7 linked regions of the Homo sapiens genome follow. The protein of the gene in region 1 interacts with the protein of each later gene in a pairwise test. Each region holds a gene or a part of one and is shown in the gene's direction. Other genes may lie near its edges.

Evidence for each region.
Region 2: the proteins of ZHX1 (region 1) and TAL1 interact in a two-hybrid assay, tested with the Homo sapiens proteins (one large-scale study listed by BioGRID).
Region 3: the proteins of ZHX1 (region 1) and ZBED1 interact in a two-hybrid assay, tested with the Homo sapiens proteins (one large-scale study listed by BioGRID).
Region 4: the proteins of ZHX1 (region 1) and AKR1C3 interact in a two-hybrid assay, tested with the Homo sapiens proteins (one large-scale study listed by BioGRID and IntAct).
Region 5: the proteins of ZHX1 (region 1) and GNG11 interact in a two-hybrid assay, tested with the Homo sapiens proteins (one large-scale study listed by BioGRID and IntAct).
Region 6: the proteins of ZHX1 (region 1) and PEX14 interact in a two-hybrid assay, tested with the Homo sapiens proteins (one large-scale study listed by BioGRID and IntAct).
Region 7: the proteins of ZHX1 (region 1) and ZNF33B interact in a two-hybrid assay, tested with the Homo sapiens proteins (one large-scale study listed by BioGRID and IntAct).

Annotation. Positions count from the first base shown.
Region 1 is NC_000008.11:123,253,787-123,257,286, reverse strand, and holds part of ZHX1 (zinc fingers and homeoboxes protein 1), read left to right. Parts: intron 1-1,115; 5' UTR 1,116-1,340; coding exon 1,341-3,500. UniProt on the Homo sapiens protein: Acts as a transcriptional repressor. Increases DNMT3B-mediated repressive transcriptional activity when DNMT3B is tethered to DNA. May link molecule between DNMT3B and other co-repressor proteins.
Region 2 is NC_000001.11:47,219,009-47,222,225, reverse strand, and holds part of TAL1 (T-cell acute lymphocytic leukemia protein 1), read left to right. Parts: intron 1-2,051; coding exon 2,052-2,506; 3' UTR 2,507-3,217. UniProt on the Homo sapiens protein: Implicated in the genesis of hemopoietic malignancies. It may play an important role in hemopoietic differentiation. Serves as a positive regulator of erythroid differentiation.
Region 3 is NC_000023.11:2,488,456-2,490,976, reverse strand, and holds part of ZBED1 (E3 SUMO-protein ligase ZBED1), read left to right. Parts: intron 1-204; 5' UTR 205-257; coding exon 258-2,342; 3' UTR 2,343-2,521.
Region 4 is NC_000010.11:5,097,414-5,100,913, forward strand, and holds part of AKR1C3 (aldo-keto reductase family 1 member C3), read left to right. Parts: intron 1-20; coding exon 21-137; coding exon of another isoform or gene 138-185; exon of another isoform or gene 186-763; intron 764-1,388; coding exon 1,389-1,466; intron 1,467-1,913; coding exon 1,914-2,036; intron 2,037-3,500. UniProt on the Homo sapiens protein: Cytosolic aldo-keto reductase that catalyzes the NADH and NADPH-dependent reduction of ketosteroids to hydroxysteroids.
Region 5 is NC_000007.14:93,926,923-93,929,110, forward strand, and holds the end of GNG11 (guanine nucleotide-binding protein G(I)/G(S)/G(O) subunit gamma-11 precursor), read left to right. Parts: 3' UTR 1-1,688; downstream 1,689-2,188. UniProt on the Homo sapiens protein: Guanine nucleotide-binding proteins (G proteins) are involved as a modulator or transducer in various transmembrane signaling systems.
Region 6 is NC_000001.11:10,621,450-10,624,949, forward strand, and holds part of PEX14 (peroxisomal membrane protein PEX14), read left to right. Parts: intron 1-1,569; coding exon 1,570-1,672; intron 1,673-2,890; coding exon 2,891-2,988; intron 2,989-3,500. UniProt on the Homo sapiens protein: Component of the PEX13-PEX14 docking complex, a translocon channel that specifically mediates the import of peroxisomal cargo proteins bound to PEX5 receptor.
Region 7 is NC_000010.11:42,635,771-42,639,948, reverse strand, and holds the start of ZNF33B (zinc finger protein 33B), read left to right. Parts: upstream 1-1,378; 5' UTR 1,379-1,445; coding exon of another isoform or gene 1,446-1,475; exon of another isoform or gene 1,476-1,644; intron 1,645-2,976; 5' UTR 2,977-3,020; coding exon 3,021-3,029; intron 3,030-4,178. UniProt on the Homo sapiens protein: May be involved in transcriptional regulation.

The DNA of each region.
Region 1 (3,500 bases):
ATGTGATTAGATCTGCTTTATAACTTTTGGTAGCATTGTGGCAAGTGCTAAGAATAATGTTTCTGGTAGGCCAGGCACGGTGGCTCATGCCTGTAATCCCAGCACTTTTGGAGGCCAAAGCGGACAGATCACCTGAGGTCAGGAGTTCGAGTCCAGCCTGGCCAACGTGGTGAAACCCCATCTCTACTAAAACTACAAAAATTAGCCAGGCGTGGTGGCAAGCGCCTGTAATCCCAGCTACTCAGGAGGCTAAGGTAAGAGAATCATTTGAACCCAGGAGGTAGAGGTCACAGTGAGCCAAGATTGCGCCACTGCACTCCAGCCTGGGTGGCAGAGTGAGACTCTGTCTCAAAAAATAATAATAATAATAATAATGTTTCTGAAACTTTGATCATTCATCCTCCATCTTTGCTATTTTTGCCATACTTGAAGCATGCTTTTGGCTGATGAGATAGACCAGTAGGAAGAAGAGGACATAACTAATGAACTAATGGATTAAATTTCTTGTCTTTTTTTTTTTTTTGAGATGGAGTCTCACTCTGTTGCCCAGGTTGGAATGTAGTGGCATGATCTTGGCTTACAGCAATCTCTGCCTCCTGGGTTCAAGCGATTCTCCTACCTCAGCCTCTGGAGAAGCTGGGACTACAGGCACCTGCCACCACGCCTGGCTAATTTTTGTGTTTTTAGTAGAGACGGAGTTTCACCATGTTGGCCAGGCTGAATTTCTTACACACTTAATGGCCATAATATTTTAGTATCTGTGAATGCTTTTTATAGTGTTAAAGTTCCTCCTTGTTAACATTGCCATTTCACATTAATAATAGTGTGCTTGCCAAAGCAGGCCCTTTCCCCCTTGTCTTCTAATATATAGCTGGCTAAAAAATTTAAATGAATAAGCTTGTGTCTGACCCAAGGTAAAGTACTTAACATTCAATGAGTTGGCCTGGAGAGATTTATTTTGATCTTTAGAGGACATTTTTTTCTGATTCTTATCTTATTCTAGATCTTTGTAACTGAGCTATCCAGCCACTTCATATAAGTGAACTATAACTATAATTTGTTTAAAAGATCATAGTTACTCATTTTAAAACATTTTAAAATTTATTTTAATGTAGGTGATTGGAGTTGTGCTTCAAAAATTTCAGAAATTCAGCAGTATTTTATCTGCCAACAATAAGCTCTTTACTTGATTGCACCATGAGAAAGCTGCTAATGAGACTTGTTGAGCACAAAAATGGACTTGAAGAACCAAAAGCCATTGTTTTCAAATGAAGAACACTGAACAGTTTTAAGCCTCGATGCTTTTTAATCACCACTGAGCTTTTCCTCATAACATCAGAATGGCAAGCAGGCGAAAATCAACAACACCTTGCATGGTCCTTGCCAGTGAACAAGATCCAGACCTTGAGTTGATATCAGATTTGGATGAAGGTCCTCCTGTGCTTACACCTGTAGAAAACACCAGAGCAGAGAGTATCTCAAGTGATGAAGAGGTTCATGAATCTGTGGATTCAGACAATCAGCAAAATAAAAAAGTTGAAGGTGGATATGAATGTAAATATTGTACTTTTCAAACTCCAGATCTAAATATGTTTACTTTTCATGTGGATTCGGAACATCCCAATGTAGTGCTAAATTCATCCTATGTTTGTGTCGAATGCAATTTTCTTACCAAAAGGTATGATGCACTTTCTGAGCATAATCTGAAATATCACCCAGGAGAAGAGAATTTTAAGTTGACTATGGTGAAACGTAATAACCAGACAATCTTTGAACAAACAATAAATGATCTGACTTTTGATGGTAGTTTTGTTAAAGAGGAGAATGCAGAGCAAGCAGAATCTACAGAAGTTTCTTCTTCGGGAATATCTATCAGTAAAACTCCTATCATGAAAATGATGAAAAATAAAGTGGAAAATAAACGGATTGCAGTTCATCATAACTCAGTTGAGGACGTTCCTGAAGAGAAAGAGAATGAAATCAAACCAGACCGTGAAGAAATTGTAGAAAATCCAAGTTCTTCAGCTTCTGAATCTAATACAAGTACTTCCATTGTAAACAGAATACATCCAAGTACTGCCAGCACGGTAGTGACACCAGCAGCAGTTCTTCCTGGATTGGCACAGGTGATAACTGCTGTATCTGCTCAGCAGAATTCTAATTTGATTCCCAAAGTCTTAATCCCTGTTAATAGCATTCCCACCTACAATGCTGCATTGGATAACAATCCCCTTTTACTTAACACCTACAACAAGTTCCCTTACCCAACAATGTCAGAAATTACAGTTCTTTCTGCTCAAGCAAAATATACAGAGGAACAGATCAAGATATGGTTTTCAGCCCAACGTTTAAAACATGGTGTTAGTTGGACTCCCGAGGAAGTAGAGGAGGCAAGAAGGAAACAATTCAATGGAACAGTGCATACTGTACCTCAGACCATAACTGTTATTCCTACACACATTTCCACAGGGAGTAATGGTTTACCATCTATTTTACAGACATGCCAAATAGTTGGTCAGCCTGGTCTGGTCCTTACTCAAGTGGCTGGAACAAACACCTTGCCAGTTACAGCACCTATAGCCTTGACAGTGGCAGGCGTTCCAAGTCAAAATAATATACAGAAAAGTCAGGTACCTGCTGCTCAGCCTACTGCAGAAACAAAGCCAGCAACAGCAGCAGTTCCAACTTCTCAAAGTGTCAAACATGAAACTGCATTGGTAAACCCTGATTCATTTGGCATTCGGGCAAAAAAGACAAAAGAGCAACTGGCAGAATTAAAAGTTAGCTACCTTAAAAATCAGTTTCCCCATGATTCAGAAATTATCAGACTTATGAAAATAACAGGCCTGACGAAAGGAGAGATTAAAAAATGGTTTAGTGACACAAGGTACAACCAGAGAAATTCAAAGAGTAATCAGTGCTTACATCTCAACAATGATTCCTCTACCACCATTATTATAGACTCCAGTGATGAAACCACGGAATCCCCAACTGTTGGTACTGCACAGCCTAAGCAATCCTGGAATCCTTTTCCTGACTTTACTCCCCAAAAGTTTAAAGAGAAAACTGCAGAGCAGCTTCGTGTCCTTCAGGCAAGTTTTCTCAACAGCTCTGTACTTACAGATGAAGAATTAAATAGGTTAAGGGCACAAACCAAACTTACCAGAAGAGAAATCGATGCTTGGTTTACAGAGAAGAAGAAATCAAAAGCTTTAAAGGAAGAGAAAATGGAAATAGATGAAAGTAATGCAGGTAGTTCCAAAGAAGAAGCTGGAGAAACTTCTCCTGCAGATGAATCTGGTGCACCTAAGTCAGGGAGTACAGGCAAGATATGTAAAAAAACACCTGAGCAGCTGCACATGCTTAAGAGTGCATTTGTCCGGACACAGTGGCCATCACCAGAAGAGTATGACAAGTTGGCCAAAGAAAGCGGGCTTGCTAGAACAGACATAGTTAGTTGGTTTGGGGACACCCGTTATGCTTGGAAGAATGGAAACTTG
Region 2 (3,217 bases), on another chromosome or scaffold:
CTAGCTCCAGCTGTGACAGCAGTCATAAGTACCCCCTCCCCAACTAGGAGCTCCCTCAAGATCACCAGCATTAGCCATGGTGGAGGGACTGTCCTCCCTATGTCACTGCTGAGGGATGCTCTCTGTCTGGCCTGGAGGCCTGAAAGCAGCAAGTAATTTCCTCAGAGGCCGCCCAGGGTAGAACTGCCCTGCAGTTGTGCTGTGTTTTTCCCAGGCTGGGTCTGGCCTTTGGCAAACAGTCAGCTGGGCTAGGGCCTGCTATGGTTTGGAAAGGCAGCTTCAGAGGTACCATGGGCAGGGGATGGTGATCCTTCCCATTAAAAGTGTGTGTGTGTGAACACCCACACATGCATGTGCATGCCTGTGTGCGTGTAGGAGAGAGAAAGAGATGATCAGGCAGTAAGTGTGGCATGGATGAGCTGATTCACAGACTGACCACTGAGGTGAGGTCTGCTTCCATCCCAGCCTCAGTCTCCTTAGCTATAAAATGGGCAGTGGGACTTAGGTGAGGTCTTAGCTCTTCTCCTCTACCTCGGTTTTCACACTCTGAGGTCTGGTTCCAGGGGTTACTAGAAGAGGGAAAATAAATATCCTAGGACTGGCAGTTCCTTCAGTGCTCAGAGCTTCCTGGACTATGTGACCCTGGCTTGTGCCTCGATGTTAGGGAGAGAAGCAGTCTCCTCAGCCCAGAAGTTCAAGAGCACTAGTAGGACCCTTCACTGTCTTCCCCTGGCTTTACAAATCCCCAGTGAGTCTTGAACACAGCACAGTGCTTTGCACACCATAAGTGCCCTAGACATGTGTGCTGGTATCTGCCACTGCTCCATAAGTCTTTATACATGGAATGTTAGTGACTATTGGGCCAAGCCATAGTCAGTGGATTGTAGACATGAGGAGACTGAGGCAGCCTTCAGAAGCCTGCCTAGAGCTATAGGCCATGGCTGTGCATAGCTGTGTCTTCACTTCTCTCCTGGGTATGAGAGCCCTTCTGCATCGATCTCTGCTCTCCCCTCCATTCCCCACCTGCCACCATGATGGGTCAGTTAGCAGACATTTTCTAAGCCCCTACTCTGTGCTTTCCATCACCCTTAGGATAAAGTCCCCCCGCCTTACTGCAAGGCCCTGTGGAGTCTGGACCCTGCCTACTCTGATCTTGTGCACAGGACTCCAGCCAGCCTGGCTTCAGGCCTTGTCTAGTGCAGGGCCTGTGCATTCCCTTGGCTTGGATACTCTTCTTCCTCTCCCCTTCTTGTGCCTGGCTGTTTCTTCACAGCCTCAGACAAGCCTTCCCAGCCACTGGAGCTAAACATGGAGCTTCTTTTCATTACAATTCAGCCCTGGTTTGTTTGTTTTTTAATATTCGTTTCCCCATTAACATGTAAGCTCCATGAGGGCAGGCACTCAATTTAGTTCACCATTATTCCTCAGTGCCTAGCACAGTGCCTGGTTGTTAGCAAAAAACTGATACATGGATAATAATAGCTAACATTTATTGACTGCTAAGCTGAGGCAGGCATTGTCTTAAGTTCTTTACCTGTGTTAGGTACTAGACCCATGTAACAACTCATGACTTAGTAGTATTACCTCCATTTTGCAGGTGATGAAGCCAAGGCACTTCACAAGTTTTTATGTCACTTGCCCAGAGTCATTCATTTAGGTAGGGGTAGTCAAATAGGAATGGAGTCTGTCTCCTTAGACATAGCTGTAAGGCCTCTTGGCACAAGTGAATGGATGAATGAATAACATACGGTCCCTGTCCTCAAATATATCACAGCCCAGGGAGGGAGACAAGCACAGAAACATAAGTAATGATCAAGAGTGATGGAACTCCAGGGATTGCGGTATCGTGGTGGTTGGTTACATCTGTCTGGAGGGGTTGAGGAAGTTCCCATAGATGAGGAAGCACAGGAACTTGAATTTGAAGGGTGGATGTTTTCTAAGTAAAAGGAAAGTAGGCATTCTAGGCTTCCCAAGTTTCCCAATGTATGGAGATGCCTTTGGGGAAGGAATCTCAAGCCCATTCTCCTAACTCTTGTCCTCCTAATCTCCAGGTCCCCACACCAAAGTTGTGCGGCGTATCTTCACCAACAGCCGGGAGCGATGGCGGCAGCAGAATGTGAACGGGGCCTTTGCCGAGCTCCGCAAGCTGATCCCCACACATCCCCCGGACAAGAAGCTCAGCAAGAATGAGATCCTCCGCCTGGCCATGAAGTATATCAACTTCTTGGCCAAGCTGCTCAATGACCAGGAGGAGGAGGGCACCCAGCGGGCCAAGACTGGCAAGGACCCTGTGGTGGGGGCTGGTGGGGGTGGAGGTGGGGGAGGGGGCGGCGCGCCCCCAGATGACCTCCTGCAAGACGTGCTTTCCCCCAACTCCAGCTGCGGCAGCTCCCTGGATGGGGCAGCCAGCCCGGACAGCTACACGGAGGAGCCCGCGCCCAAGCACACGGCCCGCAGCCTCCATCCTGCCATGCTGCCTGCCGCCGATGGAGCCGGCCCTCGGTGATGGGTCTGGGCCACCAGGATCAGCCAGGAGGGCGTTCTTAGGCTGCTGGGATGGTGGGCTTCAGGGCAGGTGGGGTGAGAATTGGGCGGCTCTGAAGCAAGGCGGTGGACTTGAACTTTCCTGGATGTCTGAACTTTGGGAAGCCTTTACTGACCCTGGGGCTGGCTTTTCTGTTTCCTGTACCAGTAGGAGATCAGAAAAATGGAGCAAAGTGGTAGGTACTTTTTGTGAAGACGGCACGGTCTTCCCTCTTCCCTCAGTCCCAAATCCTTCCCAAGTAAGAGGCTGGAGTTGTCACTGCTTTTGGCCTGGAGTTTGGGATCCCTGTCTTTCCTAAGACCTGGGGTTGTCAGCTCTCATCTGAGGCATCCAGCAGTCTCTGCCTTGCCTTTAGCCCCTCCCAAGCTGGCTGGGGTGGCCTGTGTGGCCACTTCTGTCCATATTTATAGGTACCCAATAGCTGCCCATTTCGTGAGCCCCATCTTCACCCAGGCCTATGTTGATCCATCCAGCTTGCCAGATGCTGCAGAGTCACAAGCCTCGAGGTGCCTTCTTCAGGGCCTGGTTGAAGAAGATGATCAGTGGACAGTCTGCTCTAGATGAGCTGGGCCGGAGGGTCAGGAAACCCAGTCGCCCTTACTTCTTGCCCTGGGGATCAAAGTTCTGCTTTCTCCCCAATGAGACTTGCCTTCCTAAGCCTGTGGCTGTGGA
Region 3 (2,521 bases), on another chromosome or scaffold:
TTAACGTGGAAGAAAGAGCGTATTCCTGCGCTAGGTTCCCTCCTCCACTCTGCAAAAGTGACCCGCAAGGAAGGTCCAGCCGTCCGGCCCCAGTGCCCTTTGGTTGAAAGCGGAGCTGCCCCGGCACCCTGTCTGTCTCCCCGGCAGGGCTCCCGTGCGTGCCTGGGTCCCTTCTCATGCTGTGTTTGTCTTGGCCCTTCTCAGCAGGTCCCCACGCATGAGCAGCCGTCCAGCAGGCAGGCTCCGGTGGAGAAGCAATGGAGAATAAAAGCCTGGAGAGCTCCCAGACAGACCTGAAGCTGGTGGCCCACCCCCGCGCCAAGAGCAAGGTGTGGAAGTATTTCGGCTTCGACACCAACGCCGAGGGATGCATCCTGCAGTGGAAGAAAATCTACTGCCGCATCTGCATGGCCCAGATCGCCTACTCCGGAAACACCTCCAACCTGTCCTACCACCTGGAGAAGAACCACCCCGAGGAATTCTGCGAGTTCGTCAAGAGCAACACGGAGCAGATGCGTGAAGCCTTCGCCACCGCCTTCTCCAAGCTGAAGCCCGAGTCGTCCCAGCAGCCCGGGCAGGACGCGCTGGCCGTCAAGGCCGGCCACGGCTACGACAGCAAGAAGCAGCAGGAGCTGACGGCCGCCGTGCTGGGCCTCATCTGCGAGGGGCTGTACCCAGCCTCCATCGTGGACGAGCCCACCTTCAAGGTGCTGCTGAAGACGGCCGACCCCCGGTATGAGCTGCCCAGCCGGAAGTACATCTCTACCAAGGCCATCCCTGAGAAGTACGGGGCCGTCCGGGAGGTGATCCTGAAGGAGCTGGCCGAGGCCACCTGGTGTGGCATCTCCACCGACATGTGGAGGAGTGAGAATCAGAACCGCGCCTACGTCACGCTGGCCGCCCACTTCCTGGGCCTGGGCGCCCCCAACTGCCTGTCCATGGGCTCCCGCTGCCTGAAGACCTTCGAGGTGCCCGAAGAGAACACGGCGGAGACCATCACGCGAGTGCTCTATGAGGTCTTCATCGAGTGGGGCATCAGCGCCAAGGTCTTCGGGGCCACCACCAACTATGGCAAGGACATCGTGAAGGCGTGCTCCCTGCTGGACGTCGCAGTGCACATGCCCTGCCTGGGCCACACCTTCAATGCCGGCATCCAGCAGGCCTTCCAGCTCCCGAAGCTGGGGGCGCTGCTGTCGCGCTGCCGCAAACTGGTGGAGTACTTCCAGCAGTCTGCCGTGGCCATGTACATGCTCTATGAGAAGCAGAAGCAGCAGAACGTGGCCCACTGCATGCTGGTGAGCAACCGCGTCTCCTGGTGGGGGAGCACGCTGGCCATGCTGCAGCGCCTCAAGGAGCAGCAGTTCGTCATCGCCGGGGTCTTGGTGGAGGACAGCAACAACCACCACCTCATGCTGGAGGCCAGCGAGTGGGCCACCATCGAGGGGCTGGTGGAGCTCCTGCAGCCCTTCAAGCAGGTGGCCGAGATGCTGTCGGCCTCCAGGTACCCCACCATCAGCATGGTGAAGCCGCTGCTGCACATGCTCCTGAACACCACGCTCAACATCAAGGAGACCGACTCCAAGGAGCTCAGCATGGCCAAGGAGGTCATCGCCAAGGAGCTTTCCAAGACCTACCAGGAGACGCCCGAGATCGACATGTTTCTCAACGTGGCCACCTTCCTGGACCCCCGCTACAAGAGGCTGCCCTTCCTCTCCGCCTTCGAGCGGCAGCAGGTGGAGAATCGCGTGGTGGAAGAGGCCAAGGGCCTGCTGGACAAGGTCAAAGACGGCGGCTACCGGCCGGCTGAGGACAAGATCTTCCCGGTGCCCGAGGAGCCTCCCGTCAAGAAGCTCATGCGGACATCCACGCCGCCGCCCGCCAGCGTCATCAACAACATGCTGGCCGAGATCTTCTGCCAGACAGGCGGCGTGGAGGACCAGGAAGAGTGGCATGCCCAGGTGGTGGAGGAGCTGAGCAACTTCAAGTCCCAGAAGGTGCTTGGCCTCAACGAAGACCCCCTCAAGTGGTGGTCAGACCGCCTGGCCCTCTTCCCCCTGCTGCCCAAGGTGCTGCAGAAGTACTGGTGCGTGACGGCCACGCGCGTCGCCCCTGAGCGTCTCTTCGGATCCGCCGCCAACGTGGTCAGCGCCAAGAGGAACCGGCTGGCTCCCGCGCACGTGGACGAGCAGGTGTTTCTGTATGAGAACGCCCGGAGTGGGGCAGAGGCGGAACCCGAGGACCAGGACGAGGGGGAGTGGGGCCTGGACCAGGAGCAGGTGTTCTCCTTGGGGGATGGCGTCAGCGGCGGTTTCTTTGGCATTAGGGACAGCAGCTTCCTGTAGCGAGGAAGCGTGTTGTCTTACAAGTCATCCCCGCAGCAGCCCATTGGATGCTTTGCTGTAAATACTTACCCGGTCAGCTTGGTTTTGAACCTCAGAGACCATCCACTGTCTTTGACACCTAGAAGGTGGAAAAAGGAAAGAGATTTGAGAAGTGAGAGAGGGTCGGGGGCGGTGGCTCC
Region 4 (3,500 bases), on another chromosome or scaffold:
CCATTCTTTAACCTCTGCAGCTTTGGTCCACTTTTCATCGACCAGAGTTGGTCCGACCAGCCTTGGAAAACTCACTGAAGAAAGCTCAATTGGACTATGTTGACCTCTATCTTATTCATTCTCCAATGTCTCTAAAGGTATGCAGTTTGTATGAGCATAAAATTGCGCTTCTGCTGTCATTATAAACATTGTTTATCTGGATAGTTGAACAGAGCTTTTTATTAGGAGGATGTAGGGATTATCACACAGAAGAAGAACCGTAAGTGGAACACCTAATTTCCTTTCTTTCGAGTAAATTTTGAATCCTACTTCTCTAATGCACACCTACAAGAGAAGAGAGTACAGCAACCTCAAAGCCTCTTCCTCAAAAACTTGAAATTACAATAGTCTCTTTCAAGGCACTGTCTTAGTTGTGGCTTTTGAGTCCATCTCTTGGGATGTTCCCAGACACAGAGTTTCATGCAGTTGTGGTGCCCAATAAAACTGCTGCACATGTGATGCACAATGAGTTTCCACCATCTCTCCCCATTTCAAGCTGAAGCAGATTTGGTGGAAGCCACTATGCATGGTTCTTAAATTAGAAACCCTTAATGTGGACTTGCAAAGCTTTATTATTCTGCTGCCTCTTCTTTCACAATAGAGTTTGAAGCTGTATTTAGCCAGGAATTACTGTGTAGTGTATAACTTTTGATTTAAAGTTACAGAAAACTACTCAGGCTAGTTAATGCAAAAGAGTTTACTGAGTTATGTAAAATGGGAAGTCAAAGACATGGCTACATTTAAGGATATGAAATAGTCTACAAAAATGTATCATTTGTCTATTCTTATCTCTAAACTCCAACACTTTTTTTTATTATTGTTGACCCAAACTTTTTCATTGGTGGCGATTATGGCTTTGGAGCAGCTCAAGGCTCATGGTCATCACCATAAGACAACTCCTCTGGGTCTCCCAACTTCTGCTGACCCTATGTGATTCACAGTCCTGCCCAAAGACTATCAACTCTTCAGGTGGTCTGATAATCCTACCGTGTACAAGAGTACAATCCATTATTTTTGGATATCAAGGTATTTCCAAATCAAAGAGAGGTACTTCAATAGAGGAAATTATAAGGGCGGAATAAAGTGACATAAGTCAACTGTGAAACTTGATTAAGACCTAGAAAATGGTCCTTTTCCATGCATATAATATTTGTAAGAGATTAGAGGAAGCCTGTCTCCTGAATACATTCCTTATACCTTCATATGTAAAACACTTAGCACATATCACTTTCTGGAGCATTGTACCACCTGTCTCATGGAGGATTAGTGTCCTTAAAGGTACCTGGGGTTACAGCTATGAGTGGAGAAATTAATTTGTGACATCATTAAAATGACTGCTTCTATTTCAGCCAGGTGAGGAACTTTCACCAACAGATGAAAATGGAAAAGTAATATTTGACATAGTGGATCTCTGTACCACCTGGGAGGTGAGTGCTTGGCGGAGAGGACACAGAGAAGGATGACAAAAAGAGAAAATCTGTTTCCCAGGTTCAATAGGAAAGAATGGAATATGCACCATTAGATCTAGAAATTCAGAAACTTTACAAGAGTAGCTTTGGTGAGATGAAGGGAAAAACACAAAAGGAATGTTTAGAGAGTGGGGCACAAGACTTGGGGGCAAGGAGGACAGGAATCTCTTTCCTTGCTTGTGCATTAATCTATCCAGTTTCCTAAGGAAGAGATAGAAATTCTTACTCTTGCTGCCTCTATCTTCTTCCCCTATTTGCTGTTTGAATTTTTCTTTTTTTGACAATCACTGCTAGCTATTTTCATTGTCATACTTTGAAAGTTGTTGCTCTCACAGTTCTGTCTTGCATTTACCGTGATTTGCAGCCAACTGCACAAATAATTCCTCACAACCCCTTTCTCCACAGGCCATGGAGAAGTGTAAGGATGCAGGATTGGCCAAGTCCATTGGGGTGTCAAACTTCAACCGCAGGCAGCTGGAGATGATCCTCAACAAGCCAGGACTCAAGTACAAGCCTGTCTGCAACCAGGTGAGCTCCCTTGGCCTTCTCTCCTTTCGGTTCTTCATGCCCCCTCTTCCTGTCCTATTGCCAAATATCTGTTTGTTTTGTCCCAGTTATCTTTGTGAAGTAGAAGATTATCTAGAGAGCAAAGCTTCTGTCAAGAAAGGCGTGAAGATTTCTTGTTTGTACCCTGCTTGGAAAAGTATTAGGGAAAAATTGGAATGAGTTTAATGCTGAATCGTGTGTAATATTTAGGGGAGGTCCATTTGATCAGGGAGGCCTGGAATCATCAATTAGAACTCAAGGAAAGGTGGACTTACCTCTAAGCTATGAAAGATGACCAGAAAGTGCATGGGTGAAGGTGATTTGGAGGGAATGGTGTATAGATATGAAGCTAGGAAAAGATGAAATGAGCTGTACGTGAACAGAGAGTTAGAATAAGAGAAGAGAGGTGCTAGGGGTTTACATGGAATTTGGATGTCTGAATGCCTCTTCTTGATGTTTCAACAATTCTTGACCAGGGGCATAGATATACTAAAAATTAGCTGCAGACAATGAAAGTCATCCATGTCAGAAAGAGAAAAATTAGGCCGGGTGCAGTGGCTTACGCCTGTAATCCCAGCACTTTGGGAGGCAAAGGCAGGTGGATCACCTGAGGTTGGGAGTTTGAGACCAGCCTGACCAACATGGAGAAAGCCCATCTCTACTAAAAATACAAAAAATTAGCTGAGTTTGGTGGCACACGCCTGTAATCCCAGCTACTTGGGAGGCTGAGGCAGGAGAATCGCTTGAACCCAGGAGGCAGAGATTGCGGTGAGCCGAGGTCACGCCATTGCACTCCAGCCTGGGCAACAAGAGTGAAACTCCGTCTCAAAAAAAAAGAGAAAAATTACCTGTTTATGGAGGTAACTGTTCACAGTGGATGAAATCAACACTGAGGAACTTTAGCAGAACATAGACCTGACCTATCACTGCCCATGTCTTAGTCTGCTACTTCTCTTTGGGGTCTGTCATCCAATCAGTTGTTTAAACACATCTATTCTATGCATGGTTTTTTCATAGCTTAGGGATAAGTCCTTTTTTCCCCCTGAGTTATTGTTAATGATTCCAGGCCTCCTTGATCAAATTGACTTCCCCCAAATGTCACAAAAAAATTCAAAATTAAAGTCACTCTACCTTTTTGCTAATTTACACTTTTTTATTCTTTTATACAACTTAGAGCCAATGAGTAAAGATCTACCATTGAAATGTGAAGTGTATAAAATTTGTGAATTTGGCCTAATGATACAGTTCCATCATATCCAAATAGAAACATTAAGAAAATGCAGTTTTAATATTAGTCCTTCAATTTTTTATTATGATAATTTTCAAACTTTCAGAAAATTTGATAAAAATAATACACGATTCAACATAACCATTTATATTCAAAATTGTTAACACTTTGCCACATTGCCAAATATTTATGGCAAATGTTTATGTGGGTATATCTGC
Region 5 (2,188 bases), on another chromosome or scaffold:
AGTGGCCAGGCCAGCCCTGGCTTTGAGAGCCAGTACTTATTCCTGCACAGAGCTACATCTCCCATGTGCTCTCCAGGTCTTGGGCATGGCACTACTCCAGTTCTGTGGCATTGGTGCAGACACTTGGACCTCTGCACTCATGCTTGCCAGCATTTTCCAGCAGGCCTGGGCCAAACATGCCTTTTTTTCTTCTCCTCCAAAGGAACCAGTGAATCTTTGCCCACTTTAAAGATTAGTTGGTCTTTTTCTTACTGATTTGTAGGAATTCTTCATATATTCTGGCCATTTATTCGTGTTTGGTGATATGTGTTGCGAATACCTTCTCCCAGTCTGTGGCTTACCTTTTCACAGTGACCTTCCCTTCAGTGGTTTTATCCTGCAGGGCAACACGTCAGAGTATAACTCCTGCTCAAGTTCATAACAAAGGTACCTGAAGCCCAAACCTCACAAAAAGGGACCTTTCTTTCTCACCTTGAGCATTCTCCCGCTTCTTCTCCGTCTTTTGGGTCAAAATTGCTCCAAGTTTGAGCCAAAAGAAAAACGTGGAAAAACCCTTGCTGGTTAGCTCTAGCTCAAATGGACTTAGTCATTAACTTGACCTGCAATTTTCAATGTGGCACCAGAAGCCAATGTTTCTCCTTGACTAGCTCTTTTCTCCCACTTACACATGTAGGTATACCTTACTATCAAGCGAGAGAGGCGCCTGTAACCTGTAGCAGCTTTCTAAAGTATATCAGCATCCTCGTTCTGAAATTCCTTTCCTTTCCCTCTCTGGGAAAGAACAGAATACCCCAGGCTTTTGAAAAATAGTTTACACAGACCAAAAGCAGAAACTATTTCCTTCAGTTTCCTGACACTGTCCAAGTGATGACATCAATTGGCATTACTGAGAGCCCAGGGATAATTTTAGCCCAAAACTACTACTCCTAGGAAGGAGTAGTATGATCTACTACTCTTAGGAAGGATTTAGGAATAGTAAAGGTGTATTTCTTCCAAACAGCATAGAACTATTAGTACTATTAGTCATTTAACATTTAACATGGCATGGGATTTTAGAGCTTTGGTGCCTGTAAAGTTTTACTTCTATTAGCTGTTTCATTTCTTTGCACTTATAAAGTTTTCTTCTGTTGCCTATGAAAGCAAACATTTATTCCGGTTACTGGCAAGGCAGTTTAAATCACCTGCTTCTTTCATGAAAGGCCAAGACAATACATTTATTCCCTAACTTGTTGGGAGTTGCGATTACAAGTCTATATCCTGATTTCTATTAGCACATTCAGCTATCCATTTGTGTACACTCCCAAGTCCTAGCTTTTGCTCTTCATGTCTCTTTCAACCATATGATCAATCAGTTGGACGACTTCTGGTTTTTCCTGAATAAATATCTAATCTTATAGGTGCTTCTATTAAATATAATTCTGTTTCTTTTTCTTACCATTTATCATTATAACCCAGCCAACATGTAGAAGTGCAATAAAAATATTTTAATTTTCAACTGTTCAACTGCTAAAATTATTAGCTTGTAATTAAAAAAGAAAAAATACATCCACTATATATTTAGATATATTGTAAATGTAACCTTTGGTGACTGATAATTTGTTAAGTAGAATTTAAATTATGTATCCAATTTATTCAAAGTGTATAGTTGTGTAATTATTTACTATTTGATTAAAAATAGTTATCATGCATTGTGTAGTGAGACTTAGGTTCTATAAACTCATATAGAATTAGAAAAATCAGGCCGGGCAGGGTGGCTCACGCCTATAATCCCAGCACTTTGGGAAGCTGAGGCAGGCAGATCACGAGGTCAGGAATTTGAGACCACCCTGACCAACATGATGAAACCCCGTCTCTCCTTAAAAATACACAAAAAATTAGCCAGGTGTGGTGGCGCACACATGTAATCCCAGCTACTCAGGAGGCTGAGGCAGGAGAATCACTTGAACCCTGGAGGCGGAGGTTGCAGTTAGCAGAGATCACGCCACTGCACTCCAGCCTGGGTGACAGAGTGAAACTCCATCTCAAAAAAAAAAAAAAAAGAAGAAAGAAAAATTGGGCTTTTCTATTTCTAGGCAGAAGCTACCTTAAAGCTCACCCACACTTGGTATTGTGAGACCAAAATTTTTTGTATGCTAGATGCAAATTAATATCTCACCATTGTCTAAATTTGCATTTCTTTGATTTCCAA
Region 6 (3,500 bases), on another chromosome or scaffold:
GATTCTCCAGCCACAGCCTCCCGAGGAGCTGGGATTACAGGCATGCGCCACCACACTCAGCTAATCTTTATATTTTTAGTAGAGACGGAGTTTCACTGTGTTGGCCAGGCTGGTCTCGAACGCCTGACCTCATGATCTGCCCACCTCAGCCTCCCAAAGTGCTGGGATTACAAGCGTGAGCCACCGCGCCCGGCCAAGAATTCTTTACCTTTCTTGCTGAGGACATTTCATCCTGAAGTGTAAGGCTACCTTTGATGAGTTTTGGCTCAGTTGTGGGTAATAGCTCACACTGTGGTTGAAAAGCACTTTGCAAAATAGAAAATGCGTCTATACATGTGCTGCTGAAGAATGATCTTCACTTAGGAGTCACTCTGGAAATGAGTTCCCACAAACCCCTTGTGAGAGAGCTTCTTTTCCTTCCCTGGTACAGAAACCGTAATGGAGAAGTTTCCGTCCTCTTTCCTATCTGGGCCCAGATAGATTAAGAACCAAAGTTATCCCCGGGCAGCTCCTGCCAGGCTTGCACTGCACTGCCTCTGGCAGTGCCCACTGAAGGGGGCAGCGGGTCTCACTCCTCACCTGGGGGGCTTTGTCTCCATGTCCCGAGTGGCTGGACGTCAGTGCACATGTTCCTACACGCAGCTGTCCCTGCAGGCCCCACCACCCACCTCCACCCCTCCACACCCTCACCTCCAAGGCAACCAAGAGCACCAGTTGCCAGCCCTGCCCTGCCTGCCCCCTTCCTGAACGGCTCCTTCGGGCATCCCTGGTTCTAGGCCCCTGTGAGGGGTGGCCCTGCCGCATTCACTTTCTTTTTCCCCAGAGCCAGTTTCTTCTGGTCCTGCGCCTTCCTCTCCCTTCTGCCTTGTGTTTCCTTCTGGGGAACTCGACTTCTTTTGACTCTTACGTGAAGGAAGTTTGTTCTGAGGATTCAGGCTTCATTTAGAAAAAGACTGAGGTGACCTCTTCCAGCAGCCTCAGAGCGCACATGTTATCCCCTGGCGAGAGAACCAAGGGTCCCAGAAATGTGTTGTTGATTTTCCTTTAGTTTCTCCAGCGATGTTTTGTTTATTAATTTACTCGTTTGTTTCTGAATAGGTGATTCACTCACAGGTTCAAAATGTTCACAATTCAGGAGAACATGCCGGGAAGAGCTGCCCCGCCTCCCTCGCCTCCTGGAGGCTCCAGCATTATCTGTTGCTTGTGTGTCCATCCACATTTATATCTTACAACTTTGACAGTAGAGTTTATAACTTTGTGTTACAGAAATAGTGTAGCATCACTAAGAAAAGTAAATAAAGGAACCAAAAAGTTCCCATCACAGCAGATCCAGCTGACTCTCCCTGTCCACGTTCCCTCCTGGTCCTTGTCCTTATTCAGGCAGAATTTTTACGTGGTTGTAATCGCAGTCTCATAACTTTTTCAAATATCTTGTTCATTTATGGTGTTTGCTTAGGGTTTCCAAAACCCAGGGATGACAGGGAGAAAGTTGGGCGGCAGAATTTGAGAGATTGTTGGAGGATAACCCCGGGTCCGTATGCATTCCTCACCCTGTCCCGCTTCTTGCAGAAATACCTGCTCCCCCTCATCCTGGGCGGCCGAGAGGACAGAAAGCAGCTGGAGAGGATGGAGGCCGGTCTCTCTGAGCTGAGTGGCAGCGTGGCCCAGACAGGTAAAGATTAATGACTCCATCAAGTCACCCCTCACAGCCTTCTCCAAGCAGCCCCTTCTCTGCCCCTCCCCTCTCCCTCTGTCTCCACTCTATGTGGTGACTTCATTTATCTGCTCTGAGAATCTGTTCACATTTGCAAATGAAGCCGCCGTCATTTCGGTTTAATTTGAAATTGCTTGTTTACTGTCGGCGCGGCCTCAATTAATTATGTTTTTACGGAAAGGCTCCCAACCTCAGAATATTAATAAGGGGAATAAAATGACAGCCTTTCTAAGGGCTGTAAAGTTCATTTTTAATTTCTGCTTCTATGAGGTTTTCAGGGGGGTTTTCAGTGATTTTCCCCCTTCCCTCTAAGACTCGACTGTGGGGTCAAGAGAGTCTGTAATTACTGTGGCTCCCGGGACCCCAGCCACCTCCCCTGTTATCGACTCAACAGGGCTCGCGTTCATTACCCAGTGCCCCAGCGATGGCCCAGATTAGCTGGGACCTGTCGCGCCAGAGGTGGCTTCTCTTCTTTATAAACTTGTTTACTAGACGGCAGCTCTGAATCTAAAAACCAGAGCAAGGCCAATGAGAGAGCCACCTGTCCCAGGCAGGAGTCTGTGTCCCTCTGGAGCACGTTTGTGAAGCTCACAGAAACCCTCTGACACGTCCATCCTGCTGCCGTTTGCTCCTGCGAGGCTGACATTGGTGGCAACAAGGTCCTGAGGGGTCACGGGACACCAGGGAGTTGAGCAGGCAGCTTGGGTCAGGTGGGGAGGGTGGGAAGGAGCAGTGGGAAACAGGACGTGCGGCTTGAGCCACTCCTGGATGTGAATGTGGCGGGGACCTGAGATGCATCTCTCCCAGCATTGGAGACCCCAGGAGTTTCACAAGGACACTGAGGCCCAGGAGATGAAGGACGCAGGCGCCAGAGAAGCCGGGAGAGCTCAGCAAATCATAGCCAGCTCTAATTAGAGGGGAGAGGTTCTGGACGGATATACTGTTGACCATGGACAACTACACAATGGAAAGATAAAGTAGAAATACTAGAGGTTAGATACAGTGCAGGCAGATCACCCAGAGTGCAGATAAATTAGATGGATTGCGGGGGCTGGGGGTGTCTGCAGATAAATTAGATGGAGCGGGAACACGGGCAGCTCCGAGGTGTGCGGACCGAGCGAGGGGAACGTCTGTGCCTGTGAATTTGCCAGCGCCGTGACTGCTTTCTCCTCGCAGTGACTCAGTTACAGACGACCCTCGCCTCCGTCCAGGAGCTGCTGATTCAGCAGCAGCAGAAGATCCAGGAGCTTGCCCACGAGCTGGCCGCTGCCAAGGTACCTGTCTCTGCTGCACAGGGCCCTCCAGGCCCAGGTCTGTCCCATGTGCCCTTCACTCTTGTCCCTTGGGCCGGGCTTGCCACCTTCGGGAGCTGGACTTTGCCCCAGTCTCACAGTGGTTACACAGCCGTGGCCGATGCTGCCCTTTCTCTCCTTGTAGAGACAGGAGGCTGTTGCTGGGCAGTCAGTGTGACGTTTAACTGTCGAGGCCATCCTTTCTCTCTCTATGTCACCTCCCAACAGGAGGAAGGAAAAGCTACCCTCTGCCTGTGGAGATCTCATGGCAGCCACATCCCCGCAGCTCTGGAGGCTTTCTGTGTAGACATGGGACGGTCTCTACCTATAAGTTAGGTTGCAGGTCACAGCATGGCCAGGAGGGGTTCTGGAACAGACAGGGGAGAAGCGAGTCGCAGTCAGTTCACCAGCACCAGCCCCATCCACACCGCAGTGCAGCGGGCAGGTTCTCTAGACTCAGGTTCCATGGGTTCTGGCAATCCTAGGGAGCCAGA
Region 7 (4,178 bases), on another chromosome or scaffold:
TAAAATGTAACTGATATTAAATTTATAGTTTCTGTCTTTGGTATCACATCCCTTTTTGGTTTTTTTTGAGACAAAGTCTCACTTTGTCACCCAGGCTGGAGTGCAGTGGTGCCATGATGGCTTACTGCAACCTGGGGCTCAAGTGATCGTCCAACCTCAGCCTCCTGAGTAGCTGGGATCACAGGCGCCTGCCTACATGCCCAGCTAATTGTTATTTTTAATTTTTTGTAGAGACAGGGGTCCCACTATAACGCCCAGGCTGGTCTTGGACTCTAAGGATCAAGTGGTCCTCCTGCCTCCACCTCCCAAACTGCTGGGATTACAGGTGTGGGCCACTGTGCCTGGCCCACATGTCAATTTTCAAAAATTTATACTCGTTTAAATGTTTCAATACTGTATACATGTGAATTTTATCACGTGTGATCTATATATATCTCTATATTCCAAATTGTTAGGAATGACATGCTCTTTGGAATACTCCATTCTTTCCCTCACTGTTTTGAAATGCTGTATTTACTACACATTAAAGAATACTCTCAATCATGGTGTCTTATTTCCATGGAGCAGGTGCCAAACTACTTTGAATAGAGCAATATTATATATATAGATAGATATAGATATTTCTCAGGCATTTTTTCAAGCTTTTTAAAACGTATAATGGCTGTTCATTTAGTTTTTTACTTACTCTGGATAAAGTTGACAATGCTTTTGTAAAGTACACAATACACTAAAGATCAAAGAGAAAAAATACATAAAAAAATTTGTTGATATTCTTTTAGGAATTTTGTCTTCCTAAGAAAGGTACAGATAGACTAAATGTATTTCCATTTAGTCAAGCAATTTTAATGTCACAGGGGAAATCATGTGACATTTATTTTCTTCTTTCGGATTATGTCTATTTTCTGACTTTTCAATTTCCGTTTATTGCGTTAACGATTTTGATGAAGTAGCTTTCCTGTGGCACCTCCCCCATCCCCCCCATCCCTGCTCTCAAAGAATCGCTGATAGTGTCAAAGTCTTTTAAACTGTATCAATAAGATCTACTTCCTAACATTTAAAGTGAAACTGACACACAGCTGTCCTTTCCTTGAGGCGTCTGTGTCTAACCTGCACACTTGCTGCACACAGACCTCCCCTGCAGTGCATCCCTTTGGGTCGCCCCGGGAGAGCCAGGGCTGCGGGCAGTTCCCACACCAACTCAGACCGCATCTGTCCACTGCCTAGCGGGGCACCTCTCTGCCAATCCCGAAGGGCTGCTCTCGCGTCCTCACGGGAAAGGTAGTTTCCAGGTTGGGCGCCAACAGCGCCAGGCTTTGAGCGTGGGCTCTGCGCATGCCTCATCCACTGGCTACCTCTGCGTTTCTGCGTTTCCGCCTTTCCTTTTGTTTGTCTCACGTTTTGCGTGGGAGGCGGTCCCGGGATTTCAGGGGTCTACCGGCTCTCTTATGGCGAATGCAACCCGAAGAGAGAGTGAGGTAAGCCTCCGCGGGTTGGGCAGGGACGGAGAGGGGGCCCCGCGCGACTCCAGGAGCAGGCAGCCGGGGGCCAGTGCCAGGTGGTGGCGAGGAGTCCCGGGGACCTCACGGAGAAGCCGGGGACGGCGGGGCTGCAGCATGTCTACCAGGACGCTACGCCAGTTCCTCTAAGGCGCAGCCTCTGTAGGGAGCGGGCTACGCCCTGTGCGTTGCCCTGTTTGTAGGGGCCGCGGAGGAGGGCATGTGCGCTTGCGCGGTCCGAGCGCTGAGCCTTGCGGGAGGGGCAGTTCTCTGGTTGAGCGTGTTTACGCCCATGTGCTAGGGCGCGGCCCTACCTGGGTAGGAAAGGGCGGGTGCAGTCGCCCGCCCGACATACGGACTCTGTTGCCCGTTCTGCGTTCATCCTCTTTAGGTTTCGAACTGCCCTCCAGTCATGTCCATCACCCCATCTTGTTATTTGCTGTTCCTCTGTCCTAACTTGATCTTGCACTCAGGAAGGATCTTCAAGAATTACATAATTTTGGCCTAGCGCGGTGGCTCTCTCCTGTAATCCTGCACTTTGGGAGGCCGAGGAGGGTGGATCACCTGAGGTCAGGAATTCGAGACCAGCCTGACCAACATGGCAAATCCCCGTCTCTACTAAAAATACTAAAAGTAGCCATGCGTGGTGGCCTATGACTGTAATCCCAGCTACTGAGGCAGAGAAATGCTTGAACCCGGGAGGCGGAGGTTGCAGGTAGCTGAGATTGCACCATTGCACTCCAGACTGGGCAACAAGAACGAAACTCCGTCTCAAAAACAAACAAACAAACAAAAAACCAGAATTACCTAATTTTGCCTCATTTGTTAGAAGAAAAAATAATTTTTTTGTTTTTTGTTTGTCAAGGTTACTGACTTGTTCAGGATCAAAGTTTGTTAGTAGGGAGAACTAAAAGTCACTTCTCCTGACCCCTAAGCCAGTACTACTTTTCTACACACATCAAAGCAAGTTTAAAACATCCTTTTGAGAAATAGCAACAAAGTTAGATGAAGAAATTAAAACGGATTTTTTCTTTGAAGCACTGACGCTTATGGTTTTCTGTGGACTAACTCATCAGAGGTTAAGTAACATTACTGGGAAAATCGATAGCCTAGTCCTATTCTTTACAATGGTTTTAGTGTTAATGTTTTTTCATTAAATGTATTGTTAACTTGTTTGGCCAATATTGTCATTATACATTTTTTGTGAAGACTGAGGGAGATTGAAATCCTTAGGAAGCAAATATTTACTTTCACCTGATGAAAAATCTTGTGCCCAAGAGCTACATGGTTATGTTGGAGTTGTATTAGGGTGTTCTTTCACCATTTCTACCCCCTATTCCGAAGTGTCAGAGGACATTGATATTCTCCCAGACGGAGCATTTTACCTAGTGGGTGTGTATGGCTTCTTAGGGCAGAAGAATCCGGGAGTTGCCAGGCAGGCCAAATCTTTCATGACCCCATTCCTCTTTTTCCAACTCAGCTGTATCTTCAGAGTTGTCTCCGTCTTTCCAAGAACAGAACAAAATGAACAAGGTAAGTTGTTTATTAATTCCCTACTTTATTTTGCGGTGGACTTTGTGAGATTTGTAAGAGTCAGTATGGTTTTTTTGTTTTGTTTTGTTTGTGACATGGAGTCTCGCTCTGTCGCCCAGGCTGGAGCGCAGTGTCTCCATCTCTGTTCACTGCAACCTTGCAACCTCTGCCTCCTGGGTTCAAGCAATTCACCTGCCTCAGCCTCCCGATTGGCTGGGACTACAGGCGCAGGCCGCCACGCCTGGCTAATTTTTTGCATTTTAATAGAGATGTGTTCACCGTGTTGCCCTGGCTGGTCGCAAACTCCTGAGCTCAGGCAATCCGCCCGCCTCGGCCTCCCAAAGTGTTGGGATTACAAGTGTGAGCCACCGTGCCTGGCCAAGAGTCAATATGTTAAGATGAGAAATTAGTAATAGATAAAAATTGAACTTCCCAGAAAATATAAAGTAACAGATCAATAGCAGGGCCAAGTTAGAGTCAATAAGTTGAGCTTCATGTGTTTCTTATGTTTCCAACAACCATGGCAGAAAGGAAGACACTGGATATGGATACAGACAAACTGACTCCTCTGAAGACACAAAGACTTCCTGGCAGATACCTTTTTTGGTTATAACATAGGGACCCATAGTGAATAACCTTCCAGTGTTAGCCCTGAAATGAGTGCAGCCTATTGAGTCAAACTGCTTTTTTAATTTTTATTTTATACAGGTTCCAATTTTCTTTTGGATGTACTGTTTGATCAGTAAGTTAAAATGTATTTTAATTTTAAATTTTTTATTTTTTTATTTTTTTGAGACAGAGTCTCGCTCTGTTGCCTGGCTGGAGTACAGTGGCACGATCTTGGCTCACTGAAACTTCTGCCTCCTGGGTTCAAGCAATTCTCTTGCCTCAGCCTCCCGAGTAGCTGGGACTACAGGCGTGCACCACCATACCTGGCTAATTTTTGTAGATTTAGTAGAGACGGGGTTTCACCATGTTGGCCAGGATGATCTCGATATCTTGACGTCGTGATCTGCCCTCCTCGGCCTCCCAAAGTGCTGGGATTACAGGCGTGAGCCACTGTGCCCGGCCAATAAATTAAAGTGTATTTTAATTTTTTTTTTTTTTTTTGGATACAGAGTCTTGCTCTGTCGCCAGGCTGTAGCACAG